2 separate regions of the Homo sapiens genome follow, and region 2 is linked to region 1. Evidence: fine-mapped expression QTL. A gene starts in region 1. The other region holds a variant in brackets. All regions are shown on one strand. Distances are from middle to middle.

Region 1 (2,928 bases):
TAGATCTTGGGGGAAAAGGGGTGGAGTCATTCATTCATTCATTCATTCATTCAACATATGTTTATTGAGAAGCTATAAACATAGGCACAAGGTTATGTGCTAGGTAGTGCGATTACAACCAAGAAGATAACCCAGGGCCTACTTTTGGTCTAGTGAAAGAGATGGAATTAGATGGGTATGGTGGTGTGCACCTGTAGTCCCAGCTACTTGGGAGGCTAAGGCATGAGAATCTCTTGAGGCTAGGAGGGAGAGGTTGCAGTGAGCTGTGATGGTAACACTGTACTCCAGCCTGGGTGACAGAAGAAGACCCTATCTAAAAAAAAAAAAAAAAAAAAAAAAAAAGTAGGGCAACATAAATACACAATTTTAATTTAGGTGGGTAAAGACAACAGTGGACCCCAGGGCACAGTTTAGATTATTTTATGGATATGGATAAACAGAGAAAAGGGTGGTTTTTTTTTTTTTTTTTAAATCTATTTTAGAGACTGGGTCTCACTGTGTTGCCCAGGCTGTTTTCAAACTTCTGAGCTCAAGTGATCCTCCCACATCAGCCTCTTGAGTAGATGGATGGCATTTTAATTAGATGAAATTGTACTAGGAAAGGCATTTGCAAAACAAAGTAATTGCCCCAAATCACTATGAAACCCTAAGTCAGGCATAAAACTCACGATTTCTGACCCTTCTTCATGGCCTATTGCCTCCTATTACCTTTACTTTTTCAAGTAAAGATATTCTTCTGGTAAACACATGGTCAAATACAGTGTCTTGGGTAACGAATAGTAAAGTGAGATAACATATGTAGAGAAAGCGGGTGAGAATCCGTACTCCATAAAAGTATTTTCTTTCCATAGGTGTCTGCTAAACTGCCATCTAAGTTTTCCAAAACAAAAAACAAAAACACTTGTGTGGTGCTCAATGATGTATATTAAGTGAAACCTACCAACTGACCTTTATCCTTTCCTTCCTGTTTTTTTAATATTAAAGAAGAGACCTCTTTTCACAAATGATTGAGGAGGCTAGTAAAATGCAGTGAAAAGAGCAAGTTCTTTGGGAGTCAGACAGCATCGGATCCAGCCCAGAGCGCAGCACGACTAGTAGAGTAACTTAGATTAAGTCCTTAAACTTCCAGTGTCCTCTTTTGTAAACTGGGAATAATAATAATAATAAATAAATAGTGAATAATATTTATGCAAAGTACTTAGCACAGTGTCTAACACATAAAAGCTTAGGAGAAGTTGGCTATTAAGCATTTCTAGGAACCCGAGGACTCAGGGTTGTTATTTTAGTTCTTGGAATCAAAGGAACTTGAAGCGTAGTCATTCCTAAACTAAGTTAAACCAGAACTAGCGCTTTCAGCAATGATGTAATTTGATCTCTTCGGGCCACCGTCGCTGAGCATGCGCAAATAAACGTGGCGGGACGTATGTGTCATGGCGCTCTCCATCTAAAGTCTGTGCAGCTTCCGGAGAGTGGCGGGTTGATTTTCTCACTTTGGACTGGTTTTTACTTCCCGACTTCTGGGTAAGGGTGGCCGATGGGTCCATGTGGGGCAGAGTGTGGCCACAGCTCCTTTTATGGCCAAGCCTTGTTTCTCCAGTTTCAGTTTTTCTTGGGCTGTTTGCAAATTTGTTTCGCAGTTAAAAGGGGATTTGCCAGCTGGGATGGGGGAATTGGGAGGCAGATGGGGCTTCCAGGAGCGAGGATAGGGTCGTTGGCCTCAGGTGCCGCTCTCCAGTTAGGAGTATTTTAGGCACCTCGTTCCTTATTGTCAGGTTTAACTTCATTTGTTCTCCCACTTTATACCTTAGTGAATTTGTAGATGTGACAAGGCTTTCGCAGTTATATAGCTTTCCCAGATCAGTATGTTAAGAATTTAAGCAGAAGTTATTGAGAAAAGCAGGTGTCTTGCTTTTTCACTTTTCGTTCTTCTTTGCTCATAAAACCTTTTTCTGAATCTCGGGACGACAGTTATCTTTCGGATGGAACGTGATCTGGATGTCTATCTACCTTATTGACTTAATCCTGTTTTGTAGTGGTTGGTTACTCGCACTATGCAGACGTGTTGCGGTGCTGAATACAACATTTATTACTAAAGCCAGACACTGGATCACCGTCACGGCAGATGTCAGCACACCTGTTGTAATCAGTAAGAAGTTACAAGTAGTATGGAGCATCATTAATCCTGCTGTATAAAGCAGTCTTTTATGGAGTCTGATTCCTTTTAAGTAAAGAATCCTTACAGTGGTTTTGTGAACTTTTTGGGTGCTTACTTTTCCTAATCAATTTTTATTTTCCAGACTCATCTTTCAAGAGGACTTTAGACTAATTGCAGATAATTAAGGTACTGATTTATTTTAAACCTTTTATGTTTGAGTGCTGTGCGTATTTCTGCATGTTAGAAAATGCAGAGAGGTAGCCTAATGTTTTAGCTATTTGCCACTATCATGTTATGGAAACATTGTGCTTTACATAGCATTAAATCGAAGAGATATTTTCATTTATTTTACTTAACCTTTCATTTTCATTCACCAGCATTGACCATGTCCACTTTTTTGAGATGCCCTTTTCATTTGCCTTCCATGGCCCATGGATTTTTTTCCTTGTCTGGTGGCTGCTTCTTGGAATCCATTATAAGCTGATTTTCCTTTATCTGGCAGTTAAATTTGGAGTCTCTCAAGTCGTGGTCTTGTACCTTCTCCTACCTCTGTTCTCTTTTTCTTCCCCTCTGGGTGATGTAATCCACATGCCTGTCAACAGTTATTTGTCTTTTTGATTCTACCCATCCTAATGGGTATGAAGTGGTGTATTATTGTGGTTTGGATTTCCATTTCCCTGATGGCTCATGATGTTGACATCTTTTCATGTGCTTATCAGCCATTTGTATGTGTGTGTTTTTGAGACACGGCTTCCCTATGCCACCCAGGCCAG
Region 2 (2,928 bases), 42 kb after region 1:
TAGGATTTATAAAGCAGAAATTTATAAATCCTTTCTTTTGCTGGGACAAAGGCAATGGTGAAAATTAAAAAAAAATAAAGTTAGGACATTTAGGTAACTCAAAGACAGAACTTAATGGCTGTTAAGATTGGAGTATTTGGTTTTGTAGTTTTTAAACCATATTTAATTTTGGCCATATCTATCTTATTTAGTAGTTTAAAGGATAAACAGTTCAAACAGTAAGAAAAAAGCAGTTTGTGTTTTGTCAGTTTTCAACTTTAGATATCAGTAAATCATTGCTGTAGCTTTCTTTATCTTTTGTTTGCACAAAAAACCTGTTAGAATTATGTCTGCGGGGACCATCTGCTGTGGTTCCCAGTCTTGTCAGTGTGATAAGGGATAAGCTGTATAAACAGGGGCACCACAAAAAAAAAAAAAAAAAAAAAGAAAGCAAACTGCTTTTAGAAGGGAAAAAGTATCCATTTAATTTTATAACATAGCCACAGAAATTCATATGATTTTTCTCATAATCTATCAGAATTGAGGTTGTAATATATTTTTTCAGAAACCACAGGTCCAAGTTATTTCTATGGTTTATCTTCACATTAATATTATATCTTTTTGATTACAGGGTTTCTATTTTGGAGGTCATAGCTTTTAAAAGTTCTTCGAAAATATTTCAGTATAGCACTTGACATTGCAATATTTTTCACATTGTCTGCTTAGTTTCTGGATCTTTTTTTCCCTAGCCATTAATTTTTCTTTCAGTTGAATCCTCAGAAATCATCCTTTTCCTGTTTCATTTGCAAGGAGGTCATGATGCTTCGTAAGGAACAAGGCAGTCATTTCCATGGCAACACACTCTATCAAAACATCACAAATCTGTCGTGCCCCTTACCTTTAAACTCTCAAATGCTAAGAGGAGGAGGTGTGTAAGGAGCAGCATTGTTCTTACAGCATAACTATACGATCACAAGGAGAGGGAAGTCAATTAATTGACTCAAAAGTACCTTAAGTTGACTTAGCTATAGACATATATATGTAAGGAATTTATCTTTTATATTGTATTAAACAGTGTTTTGAGGATGGAAAAATGAACATTCCAAAACTCTGATTTAAAGATCTTATTTAGTGTCTGTGAGAACTGTAAAAGAAGAATAAATAGCTGAGTTATGTCATACATGTAAACATGTTACACAGTTACTCCAGTCATGAGAAGTCTACCTTTGCCTGGAGGCCCCAGCACATGTCTCTGTCAGTCATTTTGGCTTAAGCTAGGATATTTTCAGCATGATAGTGACACCTATCTTTTAAACAAGTTCCAGAATTTTGTCAATTTTCTTTTTCTTTTTAACCATTAAGAGGAGGTGTTAGCAAGATGGCGTGACTCCTGGATATGGAATAGGAGAACAATTGGTGTTTCATCATTACTGAAAATTTTATGCTCTTTGAAATCAGGTATGAAGTATAATAAAAATCAACAGTTTTATGAGATTTTGTGGTAAAGCAATTCTTATTTTATTAACTTCAAGTCTTCTGCATTTTCAGCATTTCATTTTATTCTGTAGCATTTTTACTCCTGGGTAATGCATTTATTTGTGTGACCTGTGAAGATGGTAAATTTTGCAATGCTTA[G/A]CGCCTTCTGTTTCCCCATGTTCCTTGTAGCAAACTCTATGCTAGTCCTTATCATAGAACCTACCTATTGTACTTTAGGAGTCAGCTCACAGGACTGACACCTCCCACTTGACTGTAGCCACCTTGGAGGCAGGAGCTTGCTTTTCTCTGTGTGTGGCGTGGAGCAGGTGTTCAATAATGTTTGTTGAGAGAACAGTGGTCAGAATGAATGGAATTAGTTGTTTGTGATAATGTTTATTTTCTCTATATGGCACAGGTATATATATATTTTAATTTTTTACTGTGTATGTCTAAAATGAGGTTGAAATATGTTCTCCATACCCATTTTGTATTTAACAATTTTTTTGTAGTGTATTTTGAAATCTTGGTAGGCTATTTCCTTTTGCCTTTTCAGGCCTCCATACACTCCTATTACAAGAGGACTTCTGTCTCTGTTCCACATTTCCCTTCGTTGTTGGCGACCTAACCTTGGTGACCGCAAGCGATCGGTTGTGAGAGAAAGAGCTGTAAGTGGGGAAGGCTTTCCGAGTCTATAGGTACTACCTGGTGGCAGTATTAACACATTTTATTATGAACTATTTGACAGAGAAAAGGATTAAGAGAATAAGGACCAGTTATATATCACCTACTCAGATTTAGAAATGAAACATTACTGATATAGCTGCAGCCCTCCATGTAGGGGGCGGGGGTTAGGTGGGAGTATATTTTTCATTTTCACTTTGTACCTTTTTGCTCTACAAAAGCTTCAGACTTCAAAAGAAATCTTTCCTTGCTCTGTGCTTTCATAGTACTACCCCAGGCCTAAGTGTATTATTGAACCTGCCAGTGTATTATAACCATCTGTTCAGATGTCTGTCACCTCTACCAGGCTGTACTTCATCTTTGTATTTTCAGTACCGTACATAATAGCTAGAATGGAATAGGTGCTCAGTAAGTGCTTGTTGTGTGAATGACTGAATGAATGAATAGGTACAATTCTTTTCTCAAAATACCATGTTAATGTAGGATTCTGTTTAGCAAAACTATTTCCTTGTCTAGCCCATAGTTACAGGGCCTTGGTGCTCTGATTTGAACAAATTGAATTAAACATAAAATCCTGTAGAACAGATGCATTTACAAGTCTCTGCTCACACAGCTGCTGGTCTATTTAATAAAAACATTGCTGTTTTGATTGGGTATTCATAGCCTTTCTTTTTGTTAACTCTATTAGTATCATGGTATAAGCAGACTACAGTCTAGGGAAGATGAGTGGAAGAATGAGCCAGTGATCAGAACTCAGAGAGACAATAGGAGATGGATGTCAAGAAGATGGAT

What was found. PIP is the estimated chance that this variant, and not a neighbour inherited with it, causes the effect. A credible set is the group of variants that fine-mapping cannot tell apart.
Region 2: its variant is the best candidate, but not a certain one, in a credible set for the expression of CDKAL1 in whole blood (TOPMed, PIP 0.51).

The regions. Positions count from the first base shown.
Region 1 is chr6:20,533,054-20,535,981 of GRCh38, forward strand. CDKAL1 (CDKAL1 threonylcarbamoyladenosine tRNA methylthiotransferase) reads left to right here and starts at 1,404. Exons shown (of 16, transcript NM_017774.3): 1 at 1,404-1,521; 2 at 2,298-2,341. RefSeq lists enhancers at 1,333-1,492, 1,523-1,602.
Region 2 is chr6:20,575,038-20,577,965 of GRCh38, forward strand. The region is part of intron 4 of CDKAL1 (CDKAL1 threonylcarbamoyladenosine tRNA methylthiotransferase); the gene reads left to right. LOC124901273 (a long non-coding RNA gene) reads left to right here. Exons shown (of 2, transcript XR_007059491.1): 2 at 1,342-1,473. Among named protein-coding and RNA genes, the nearest start is that of CDKAL1, 42 kb to the left of the region's middle. The variant G/A (reference allele first, on the strand shown) is at 1,615.